Homo sapiens: one gene and its partner. The protein of the gene in region 1 interacts with the protein of each later gene in a biochemical or structural test. Each region holds a gene or a part of one and is shown on either strand. Other genes may lie near its edges.

Evidence for each region.
Region 2: the proteins of GALNT7 (region 1) and GOLPH3 form a complex in vitro, tested with the Homo sapiens proteins (one study listed by BioGRID).

What each region holds. Positions count from the first base shown.
Region 1 is NC_000004.12:173,318,631-173,324,581, forward strand, and holds the end of GALNT7 (N-acetylgalactosaminyltransferase 7), read left to right. Parts: intron 1-2,949; coding exon 2,950-3,087; 3' UTR 3,088-5,337; downstream 5,338-5,951. UniProt on the Homo sapiens protein: Glycopeptide transferase involved in O-linked oligosaccharide biosynthesis, which catalyzes the transfer of an N-acetyl-D-galactosamine residue to an already glycosylated peptide.
Region 2 is NC_000005.10:32,143,027-32,150,320, reverse strand, and holds part of GOLPH3 (Golgi phosphoprotein 3), read left to right. Parts: intron 1-6,440; coding exon 6,441-6,572; intron 6,573-7,294. UniProt on the Homo sapiens protein: Phosphatidylinositol-4-phosphate-binding protein that links Golgi membranes to the cytoskeleton and may participate in the tensile force required for vesicle budding from the Golgi.

The DNA of each region.
Region 1 (5,951 bases):
GATAAATAAATCTTAAAACCTGCATTCAAATTCACTTGCATTTTCCTCTCATTTAGTCCCTTGCATAGGTTTTCCTGAGCACTGGATGACTCATTGTTCTATAATGAGGCATCACTTTTGTTCTCTCTTACAATATTGTCATGTAATGAGGCCACGATGATGTCTATAAAGAGCACTGCTAATTTTAGTAATACAAGAAAGTCAGTGTTCTGTGAGGCAGTCATCACCATTGCTCTCATCAAAATCTGATTTTTGAAATGTAAATGAATCATTCATTAAAGTAAAATATATTTAAATATATTTATACTATTAAAAATTTGGTTAATATTTGATATTGTCCAGCAGGTGGAGATAGAGACAAACAAATAAAACTTGAAATCTAGGCTTTCATAACGTCTTTATCATTGTTGTGTGCTAAATACAGTGGGATAAATGTAGCTAGTTGCTTACTTTAATGGTCAAATTTAGTTATTCACGTGACACTGCTGGGGTAGCTTTGTGTTTCAGCTGTGAGTATTTAAAGCTCTGTGGCAAGTTGAGGATTACAACATATTAATAGATTTATGTATAGTTTTCAAATTCTAGATTTGGCTAACATAAATCAATTTATTATTAAACAAAAAGTGGGGAAAGCTGCCTCACACTAAAAAAATCTGTCAACCCTCCATTTTATTTACTCACCCAGTATTTGTTATCATATCCCATCTGTCATGCAAGCAAGGACTTGTTTGCTATGTAATAATGATATGACCTAGCTTAACATTCCCTGTTACTGTCATTTACAGATAATTTCCAGGAAGTGATAAGCACGTATCAATTGATGATTTTGTTTCTTATAACAAGTTAGGAAGGAGAAGAATAGCATAAACCTTAAAGAGTGGAGCATTTATTTTCACAAAAAAAAAGGATATATAATAGCAATAAATAGTAGGGGTCAGTGAGAACAATATTAGCAAAATAGTAAAAGAGGGCTAACACACCAGAAACTACATCAAGAAGTAATTGAACAAAAAATGACACATAACATGTTTTAGGTATTTTAAAGACGCAGCACTGAATATACATTTGTGTGTTAGATATTACTGAACATTCACTTGGGGACCAATAATATGTTAGACTGTAGGGGAGTTCAAAAATATAGCTAAAGCACGCTATTATATAATGGCAGAGAAGAAAGAAATGCAAAAATAGAGATAAGCAAAATGCCATAGGACAGAAAAGAGTGATTCATGGGAGGAATTACTGCTGAGGAGTTTCATAGAGGAAGTGTCATTGCACAAGTCCTGAAGTGTAAAAAGGCTTTCCATGGAAAGTAAATAAGAAAGCCTGGATGAGCAAAGATGTGGCATGAAAACATGTAGAAAATTCAAAGAATTGTATTTCATTTGGTATCCCTCAATTGTGCTTTGGAGGAAAGAGCACCGAACTTCATTTTTTAAGTTTTGGAGAGGGATAGACCTTATTTGAGGAAGGTAGTGATGGAAAACAATGGCTACTTTTAGGAAAATAATTCTGGAAACGTGAGGTATGGACTGATGAAGCAACGAGATCAGCTTGAGCAGCAGTTCTCAAACTTTCTGTCCTCTGGATTCCCTTTACACTCTTAAAAATTTTTGAGCTCCCCCACCCCCAAATTGCTTTTGTTTATATAGGTTATCACTAGCAATATTTCCAGAACTGGAAAGTGTCTGAGAAATTTGTAAAGTTTTTATATATTAATTCATCTAAAAGTAATAATAATATACTTATTAAACATTAATGTAAATGACATTTTTAATGAAAAATAACTATGTTTACCCACAAAAAATAGTGAGAAGAATGGAATTCTGTATTTTTGCAAATCTCTTTAATGTCTGGTTTAATAGAAGAAGACAGCTGGATTCTCATACTCCTGCTTCATTTGGTCTGATCTGAAATGTTGTTTTCGTTCAAGTATATGAGGGAAACCCAGCCCCACACAAGCATACAGTTTGTAAAGGGAGCGAGTACTTTAATAGCCGTTCATATAATTGTGGCTGTTTTTTTATTGTACACCACAACTTAATAATTAAGTGGTAGTTTCTTAAAAGTTATTTCCAGTGTAGACTGATATCCTTGAGCATTGTACCTCATTATATGGAAGTACTTGATACGTACTTCCCACTTCATCTCATAGAATTTTTTTTAAGTATACTGAGGGGTCAAGACTGAATAAAACGAATGTTTTGCTCCTTCATCAGTGACATCCTTAAGTGAAACCGGCATTTACTTTTCAACTGTGTGTGGCCATGAGCAATACAACTATAGGTACTAGCATAGTTTGATTCATGCTAAGGCACCATCAGTTTTACTCACCATTGCTTTTGCACTATCGGTATAAATGTTGCTAAAGTGAAAAGGCAATGGTGTCTTCGTATTATGATGAAAATAGTTTCGGCCTTACAGACCCAATCCTGGATAGTCTGAGGACCAGACTTTGAGAAGCTCTGAGCTATATTGAAGAAACCTACAGCATATGGTGAGGGCCAAACCAGGGCATCTGCAGTGGCGATGGGAAGGAATATAAACCAGAGACATTGCACATATCCATCCTTAGTGACTGGTATGTGAGTGAATGAGGAAAAGTGCAGTATTTCCTAAGGACTAGAGAGCTGGGAATGTCATTAGCCAGGATAGGAACAAGAGACATAGATTTGGAGGGGCAGATAATGAATTTAGGTTTGTATACATTGAGTGTGAGATACCAGCAGTATATTGTGACTTAACAATGAAAGATCTTAGGACTTAGAAAACTGACAATCAAGAGAAATCCAGAAAACTGACAATCAAGAGAAATCCAAAGTCTGAGGTGTGGTTGAGAAGCTTTTCCATTTCCTTAAACTGTCTCCTCATGAAAGTCAAGTGATGATTTCTGATGTCAGTGATATCAAGGGTCCAAATTTGAAACTTTTTTCTTACTGTGTTTTCCAGAACCTGCACAGATTTACTCATATTCCTTCAGGAAAGTGTTTAGATCGCTCAGAGGTCCTGCATCAAGTATTCATCTCCAATTGTGACTCCAGTAAAACGACTCAAAAATGGGAAATGAATAACATCCATAGTGTTTAGAGAGAAAAAAATAAACCAATAACCTACCTACTGACAAGTAAATTTATACAGGACTGAAAACCGCCTGAAACCTGCTGCAACTATTGTTATTAACTCTGTATAGCTCCAAACCTGGAACCTCCTGATCAGTTTGAAGGACATTGATAAACTGTGATTTTACAATAACATTATCATCTGCAGTTACTGTTTACAAGACTGCTTTTACCTTAAACTTTGTAGATGTTTACATCTTTTTGTTGTGTTTTAAGATGATGTTGGTAATTTGTGCCTTTAGCTCTGTTTTATTAGACAGAGTTAAAGCATGTTGTCTTCTTTGGGATTACACTCAGGGGTCTGAAAGGCAGTTTGATTTTTATTTTTAACACACTTGAAAAAAGGTTGGAGTAGCCAGACTTTCATATATAACTTGGTGATTATCAACCTGTTGTGTCTTTATTTAATTTTACATCTTTTTGAAGCACTGCCACAGGTTATTAGCCAAGGTGGCCTTCCTTCACAGTCATGCTGCTTTTTTGAAAGGTGAATTTCAACACATTTAGTGCCTCTTTCATTTCTCAGTATATATTTCAAGAGCTTGTGATGAAATCTATAGGATGGTAATGATGGACTTGTCACCTGTATGGGGAATACTTTTACTACTCAGAAATGAATTTATGTGCTGCCATTTGCTATAAAGTTGAACTTTGTATGGCTTGAAAAAGAAATGACAATATGGAACATCCCAAGGCTGTCCCATAGGGTTGGAAGTTGTGTAGCATTCACTCCCTTACCTACTGGCATTCCCAGTGCCCTCTGTCCATACCTACTTCTAGGATTGCAAAGGAGTCTTCCAACTAGAGAAAAATTGTCCACTGACATTTGGGATTTACTTTTCTCCAATACCTGCCAATACAGAAAACTATTATCAGTTGTTATTGTTATCCCTTGAAAGCGAGGGTGACAAAAACAACAAAACACCGTTATAAACACATCAAAGGTTCATTCTGACTGAGGTAAGACTTTCCAAGCCCTTGTTAGATTAGGCCTTATAAAACTTGTGTGCATTATAACCTAAGCTGTGCAACCTGTGAAGCCAAGAGTGAACTGATGTTTCATTTATATTTTCATCCAAATGACATTATCTGCACGTTTTTAAAATTTAAAAACAAAGGACTATTTAAAAATACAGTTTATTAACAAACGTGAACTACTTTCTGTTACATTAGGTGTTCCCTAGTGTTTCTTAATTTCTTTTTAGAAAGTGTATTTTTATTAGTATTTTTCCGGTGAACAGAAGATTTGTTTGGATTTAAACATTTACTAAGACAGTACCTATTAGGAAAACCAAATATTGCAAATGGTCAATTCGATTTTAATTTCTCAAAAGATACTCTGTTATCCAGAAGATTAAAATGCCTACATTGAGTGCTTAAAAAAAAAAAAACAACTGTGATGATGTGAGCAGAATGGCAAGTAAGTTAAGCATTTTTGATCCTGTAATCATGGTATCATTACAATGAAAGGAATTCACAAACTACTGCCAGAGGAAGTTTGTTTTTTAATTTAAGAGGGAAATATAACCTATAAATTTGTTTCTTCCAAGCTTAGCTCTTAAATTTGGAGACTCAAAGTTAAACATCCTCAACAGAGTTTTATTTATAATTTTGAATTGTCAATTTGTATTTTGCTACTGATCTGTGATCAACCATTTTAACTTTCATCTCTAGGGATGTTTAACATTTATAATTGCAAAATAAACCAACTATAAAAAAAGAAACTAAGAGAGAATTGGTACTTTAATTACTTGTGTGTTTGCAAATAGGCTCCATTTTCCATGTTGAGTAGATTATAACCTTATTAACTATGCATAGGCCTAAGAAAGGTGGCAATGAACTGTGCATGTAAATTTTAAATGGGTACTTTGTGCAATTCGTTAAAAGAAGATACTCTATGAATATGATTCTATATATTGAAATCAGAAAACCTACCAAACAAAAACATCAGAAGCTGCTGCCATAATGACTATTTTCTACTGTAGGCTGCTTTGGAAATAATTCCCATATCCTTGCTTTGTAAGTTGGTAATATCACTATGCATTTCTACACATTTTATAAATTTGATTTATGCAGATTTTGATACACTGTATGTTTCTGTAGAAATTGTATAAATATTCAAAATTTTATTAGGATAAATTTGAGAAACTTACGTATATCTTAATTCTGGGTTGCTTGTTTTTTAGGTGACAAAAATAAAATATTGTATTTTAATTCATGGGTTTTTTTGGTGCTTGTAATCATTTCAAATCTAAACACTGCACATTTGAAAGAATTACTTGATTTTACTATTTACAAGACACACAATACCTAAAATATTATAGACCATAGTTATTAGTTGAGTATGTGCTTGACTGTTGCTTAGCATTCTGTTACACATGCTTAGAATACTCAGAGCTTATGTATCTGTTGGAAGGAAACAAAGGTTTATTTTTACCTGTTTGCCTATGTATACCAATTTTTTAAGTTTATACTTTTTTTAATTATAAAAAATTACCCCAGCAACATATATCCTTCTTGGCTGTATATAGAATTGCCTTCTTGGCTGTACTATAGAATTGCCTATTAGAAGCAAACATGCCTTCAAATCAAATTTGTTTACAACCTGACAGATCAGGTTAAGTGGAGAAAAATGAAGAGAAGGGAAGCCTACCACAATGAAATTAGAAATAGTCCATAGCACCTTGTACAAAACACATCTCAAGAGAAGATACGGTTGCTAACAGATTCAAGTAAGTGGCTGTATTGATTTGGGAAACTTTCTCTCAACTGACCTGTCTATTGTCATATCTCCCAATTCTTAGCTGCTGTAGAAGTAGGCTAAGAAATTTG
Region 2 (7,294 bases), on another chromosome or scaffold:
GCTGAGACTTTGTATATAAGAATGAAATATCTTTCTATTATTCAAGTCTATTTTTAAGTCTTTCAAGAGACTTTAAACTTTTCATATAGGTTTTGCCATGGTATTTTTTGTTCTTTTTGTTGCTGTTGTAAAGGTCTTTTCAATTATATTTTAACTTTTTAGTATTTTAACATGTGTATTTTGTTTGTATATGACAACTGGTGTTTAATTTTATATAATCTGGCTACTTTACTAAACTCCTATCTATAGTAATTTTTCCATTTACTCTTATGAGTTTTTCTAAATATCCAACAATATCACCAGCAAATGCAGTTTTACTACTTTTTTTTTTTTTCTTGAGACAGTTTCACTCTTTTGCCCAGGCTGAAGTGCAGTGGCTCACTGCAGCCTCTGCCTCCCAGGATCTAGCGATTCTCCTGCCTCAGCCTCCCGAGTAGCTGCTATTACAGGCATGAGCCACCACACCTGGCTAATTTTTGTATTTTTAGTAGAGATGGGGTTTTGCCGCCTTGGCCAGGCTGGTCTTGAACTCGTGACCTCAGGTGATCTGCCCGCCTCGGCCTCTTAAAGTGCTGAGATTACAGGCGTGAGCCACAGTGCCCAGCCTTACTACTTCTTTAACAGTTCTTATATCTGTAGATACCTTTTCTTGTCTAGTCTTTTTAATCTGCTTTTACCTGAAGTCACCTTCATTCTCTTGATTAGTTATTTTTGTCAAGAACTTTTTGATTCTTAATTTTTGACATAATCAAAATTTCATGTAAGATTTCAGAAGTGACTTTATAGAATGTTTTTTTGTAACAGCTCTGAGATATGATTCATATGCCATATAATTGTCATTTGAAGTGTACAATTCAAGGTTTTCAGATTTGTACAACCACCACCATAATCAATTTTAGAATATTTTTATCACTTCCAAAAGAAAGCTCATCCCCTTTAGCCATTACCTCTCCCTTTTCCCATTTTGCCAGCCCTGGGCACCCACTGTATTAATTATCTTACTGCATAACAAAACATAGCAGGTTAAAACAACAAACATGCTATTCCGTGTATGTGCCTGTCTGCCTCTCTGTCTCTGTATGTCTTGGTTTGCCTCACATTGCATCCTCTCTCATTTCTACTCTGCATTTGTCTTCTGTTTTCCTTTCTGTTACCTTCATTCTCTGCATTTGTACCCAATGGCCAGTAGCTTCTGAATCCACACAGCCAGTACAGCTCCAGTGCCATGCCCATATAACTGATTCAGTATGGCAAGTTCAGATACTCAGGAGGGAGACTTAATTTGTTCATCCTGGTCCATTTAGATTTGGCAAGTACAATCACCTTTCTTTTTTTCTTTTTTTTTGAGATGGAGTTTCGCTCTTGTTGCCCAGGCTGGGGTGCAGTGGTGCGATCTCAGCTTACTGCAACCTCTGCCTCCCAGGTTCAAGCAGTTCTCCTGCCTCAACCTCCTGAGTAGCTGGGATTACAGGCATGCGCCACCACGCCTGGGTAATTTTGTATTTTGTATTTTTTATTTTTTTTGAGACAGAGTCTTGCTCTCTTGCCCAGGCTGGAGTGCATTGGCGCGATCTCGCCTCACTGCAAGCTCCGCCTCCTGGGGTCACGTTATTCTCCTGCCTCAGCCTCCCGAGTAGCTGGGACTACAGGTGCCCACCACCACGCCCAGCTAATTTTTTATATTTTTAGTAGAGATGGGGTTTCACCGTGTTAGCCAGGATGGTCTCGATCTCCTGACATCGTGATCTGCCCACCTTGGCCTCCCAAAGTGCTGGGATTACAGGCGTGAGCCACCATGTGGACCTGGCCTATATTTCTATTAGAAAGCCATTTCCAAAACATTGGTCACACCAGAATTCAACCTTATATAGAAAATATAGTGTTTTTAGTGATTTCATTTTGAAATATTTTGTACATAAAAACAAAATGAAACTATTTTGAGTACTTTATGCCTATACAGACTACTAGTAACTGAACATTCATATAACGTAGTATGTTTTGTAAAATGTTTAGCGGTTGCAAACTGGTTTGCCAGATATGTTTTGTTTAGTAAAACTTGAGTTGTAATCCTTTCAAAGATGGAAGTAATATATAGAAACGGACGTTTCTGCCCTCTTGAAAAAGATGTGGCAAGAGCAGGCCCACATTTTACATGGCAACAGTTGATAAGGGCTAAGCTGTCTTCCCCAGATAGATGGAAGAGGACATTGTCCAGCTTGCTGCAATCCACACCTGGGTCTCTTTATTCAGTCATGTTCTTTGTACTTTCTAAGTAACTGAGTTTGCAGTCCTCCATCCCCATTCCATTCTAATTGTACATAATTAAGTAATTACTAATTGCCAGGGGTTGTGCTTTATATATATTATTTAATCTTCACAACTTGTTTTATATGAAGAAAACTAGTCTCAGAAATTTAACTATATAGTATGTGGTAGAGCTGGAGTTGATTTGAATCGCCAGGTGTTTGTGCGGTCTGGGCTCTTGAGCACAGTTCTTTACTACTTCACAAATATGTTTTACTTTGTGGTTCATAGTTATTTTCATGGAGAGTTTTTAGTTCTTCTAGTGTTTTGCCTCTGTCAAATTACTGCCACTATCATAACTATTGCCTTTTAAGCTTGAACAACTATAACTATAGTTGATCAGTAAGGAAAACCTTACTTATCTCCTTGCCACGAGTTTTCCTTTACTATATACAGAAAAGCCTAAAGAAAATAAAGATCACCATAATCACCAGACATTACTGCTGCTAAAACTTTTCTTCTAATCTCCCTAAAAAATGGGACTATTTTCTGTCTCTCTACACACACACACACGATTTCATAATAATTTTTCATGTTTTGTAATAACCTCTGCACCAGGATTTCTTTTCTTTTTTTTTTTGTTTGAGATGAAGTCTTGCTCTGTCACCAGGCTAGAGTGCAGTGGTGCAATCTCGGCTCACTGCAGCCTCCGCCTCCTGCACCAGGATTTTTAAAACTGATTTTCATAGAATTGTAATATTCTGTAGGCTGTTAAAAGTATACTGTAAATTAAAATGCTTCAAGGTCAGGAAAGTTTGGGAAGTGCTGAGTTTATTCCCTTTTTTTTGCTTTTAGATTGTTTTTGTGTTTTACTATGATAATGATGTGATCAATATATTTGTACATATATTTTTGTGCACAGTATTTTCTAACTAAAGGCCCATAAGAATTGTGTCAAAGGATGTGAACATTTATAAGTTTTTTTGTAAATACAAACCTATGATATACATACGTATTAATATTTATGTAACTTCAAAATAAGATTACACTTTAGATCAAGCTTGTCCAACCCGTGGCCTGTGGGCCGCAGGTGGCCTACGGCTTTGAATCTGGTCCAGCACAAATTTGTAAACTTTGTTAAAACATGAGGTTTTTTTTTTTGTTTTCTTTAGCTCATCAGCTGTCATTAGTGTTAGTATATTTTATGTGTGGGCCAAGATAATAATTCTTCCAGTATGGCCCAGGGAAGCCAAAAGATTGGACACTCTGCTTTAGATAATATAATTTTTTATCTGTTTCTCATGTAGAATATATATTATGAGCATTTTCCCATGTTGTAAATGTTTTTAATAACATATAAGGAAAATCTTATACTTCCGGTTATATCCCTGTTATGATCTTTATACAAAATATTTTTATTACATTTCATTTTGGGTTACCAACCTTTTGAGTTCCTTCTTAACAAAAAGCTTCTGGGTAAGTAGGCAGTTGAGAGCAGAACAGTAGCTCTTAACTGGAATGGTGAGAACTCTTCTCAGTGTTGGCAGTTTTAGGGGACTTAATAAACAATACCCTTTTCTACCATTCAAATTGAGCCACTTGAAAGAATAAAGGGAATCAGGCAGATGGAGGTCTGGTAGTGTATGGCCCAGCCTACTTGGGGTGTCTCTGTCCTCTCCCATCCTTATATTTTAGAACATAGGAACTAATTATGACTACAGTCATAAGCTGCTTGATGCTGCCAGTTACTAACCTTCCCCACATATTTTATCTTTTTTTTTTTTTTGAGATAGGGTCTTACTCCTGTCATCCAGGCTGGAGTGCAGTGGCATGATCATGGCTCACTGCAGCCTCAAGTTCCTGAGCTCAGGTGATTCTCCCACCTCAGCCTTCCAAGTAGCTGGGACCACAGACGGGTGCCACCATGCCCGGCTAATTTTTGTATTTTTTGTAGAGATGGGGTTTCACCATGTTGCCCAGGGGTCTGGAATTCCTGGGCTCAAGCAATCTGCTTGCCTCTGCCTCCCGAAGTGCTGGGATTACAGGTGTATGTCACTGCGCCTGGCCACCCTATGGTTAATTTTTGATCCTGCTTTTATGACATGGATTTTAGCAGGAGGGTATCAACATACTGTACTTTTCTGTTGTTTGGTGTGTCTTTGTTGGCTTCATTTATCTTTGGAATATTGCTGACGAGTCCCAGAAGCTGTGGTACAGAACTGTCCGTTCCCATTCATCTACTTTCCCATGTGAATCCAATTCTGTTTAAGCATGTGTCTTTCAGCGATGATGCCTAAAGCCATTCACTAAATTTAGATCTCTGAAGTCTGTTACTAAAGACCCCATTTTGCTAATATCTCTGGGTATGCCATTACTCTAGGAGCAATTGAGATTGAGACATATTTTAGTTCTCTGCTGTCAAATGTAAGCCTCCAGGTACTGTTCAGCTGGAGTTTGCAGGCTGTAGGGCTGTTCACGTCCATTATTGCTTTATGAGGTGTTCTCTGTTGTTTACAGTTTGTAGAGGCTCATTTAGGAACTCTGTCTATATGTCCAGGCCAGTCAAAGCCAGATATCTGTAACTTTAATTTCATGTGGAATTCATTCTCAGGCTTCCTAGGGCTTTAATTTCATGGACACAGAAGCCACGCATTTTACCTAACCTCTATAAAGTACTGGTATTATTAGCCACTTTGCTAAATCTCTGGTAATCTTCATTTGATCAGGCCCCGACCCTAAGTTTAAAGTGACTCCCTAAAATCCAGTCAGTGTCTGCTACTTACACCTCACATTTAAATTGATCTCTTAACACTGATGTTTTTGTTTATCCGCTTGTGCCTCCTTTAAATTGTTATTTTCCCAAAGGTCACATTCTCAGAAGTGGTAGCTTGGTGAGGCGAATTTAACTCCTTGTATCAAAAATGAAGTTTGATGGACCTCAATGGTCAGTCATCTTCTGAAACACAAGCTCACTACTCTGGCCTGACAAAGTGCCAGGATTGACCTTGGAAAAGTGCCAGAGGTGAGGGCCAGGCCTTCCTAATCCTGGGCCCTCCATTCTTTAGAGATTCAGTTGGCCTGTTCTCCTACCAAAATTGTGTTACCCTGTTCTGAGCCTTAATGAGAGTTATTTATAGCTTCTGCTGTCTCATGAGAACTGGGTATCTTAAATTGATAGCTGGCAATCCTGCTGGCAAGATTTGTGGCTTTATAATTTGAACAACCCCAGTTGTTTGCTGTTAAAGTGTCCTGACCTCATCTGGTGATGCCTGCTTGACCAGTATCCCAGATCTCTAGATGTCTATCAACCTCCTTATGTCTGGCCGTTCTTCCACTGTGGATGCTGCCCTTACATTCTCTCTTGGGGCCAATCTGATTGTTATACTGTTTATTATTGAGAATTTTAGGCCTATAGCCATCCATTTGTTTGTGGGCGCATGTGTGTTTTTCTAATATCTTCTTACAAAATTAACAGTGTGTGTATTTAAGAGACAATGTCGCACTGTTTTGCCCAGGCTGCAGTGTGTTGGTGTAATTATTGCTCACTGTAGCCTTGAACTCTTGGACACAGTGGTCCTCCTGCCTTAGCTTCCTGGGTAGCTGCGACTACAGGTGTGCAGCACCACACCTAGCTAATTAATTTTTTTTGGTAGAAACAGGATCTCACTATGTTGTCCAGTCTGGTCTCAAACTCCTGGGCTCAAGCCATCGTCTTGGCTCAGCCTCCCAAAGTGCTCGGATTAACCTTGTGGTTTTATCCTAAACAGCAATAAATGAATGGTATTCTAATTCTCTGTGAAGCTAACTTGGCTAGGTTGTCTTTGCCTGAGCTTCTTAACTTGTCCACATAAATAAATCACTATAATCTGGGGTTAACTGAGTATTCCTTGGAGTTTGCAGGGTTCTGAAAGAACCTAATAAACACACAGCTTGGTGAAATGTGAGTTATGTTTCTAAACTTATGACCTCTAAAGTTATTTGTTGTTTGTATGTAAGAATAAGTGGTGGAAAGATAAGCCCCCGAAAATTCTCGATTAGTAATTTATGTTAATTGTATTTTTTCAGTATATTATTATAGAAAGACAGGAAAGGTAAAAGGCACCAAATATGACTTTGGCTGATAATATTTCTGTTTTTTACTCTGAATTCAAGGTAAATTAGCTATTTTGTTTTATTTCTTCTTCTTTTTTTAATAGGGTTACACATCATTTTGGAATGACTGTATATCATCTGGATTACGTGGCTGTATGTTAATTGAATTAGCATTGAGAGGAAGGTTACAACTAGAGGCTTGTGGAATGAGACGTAAAAGTCTATTAACAAGAAAGGTAAGAGGAGTGCTGAGTAACATTCTTTTTAAAGAGGTTGTACTGCTTAAAATGTATGTTTTTACTAGTAGCCTTCAAAAATTAAAGTGGAAGTTGATATTAAAGTTGTCTTTCTTCAATTGTATTTCCATATCTTTTTTGCATTCTTGGTTTCCTGGTTCTTTCACCTACAATGAGTAATGTAATTGATTGTTAAGGTAACCGGCCACTGGATCTTACAAATTCAGAAAGATTCTAGACTTCATTTGCAGCTTTTATTTATTTATTTATTTTTAATTTTATTTTATTATTATTATTTTTTATTGATCATTCTTGGGTGTTTCTCGCAGAGGGGGATTTGGCAGGGTCACAGGACAATAGTGGAGGGAAGGTCAGCAGATAAACAAGTGAACAAAGGTCTCTGGTTTTCCTAGGCAGAGGACCCTGCGGCCTTCCGCAGTGTTTGTGTCCCTGGGTACTTGAGATTAGGGAGTGGTGATGACTCTTAAGGAGCATGCTGCCTTCAAGCATCTGTTTAACAAAGCACATCTTGCACCGCCCTTAATCCATTCAACCCTGAGTGGATACAGCACATGTTTCAGAGAGCACAGGGTTGGGTTTAAGGTCACCGATCAACAGGATCCCAAGGCAGAAGAATTTTTCTTAGTGTAGAACAAAATGAAAAGTCTCCCATGTCTACCTCTTTCTACACAGACACGGCAACCATCCGATTTCTCAATCTT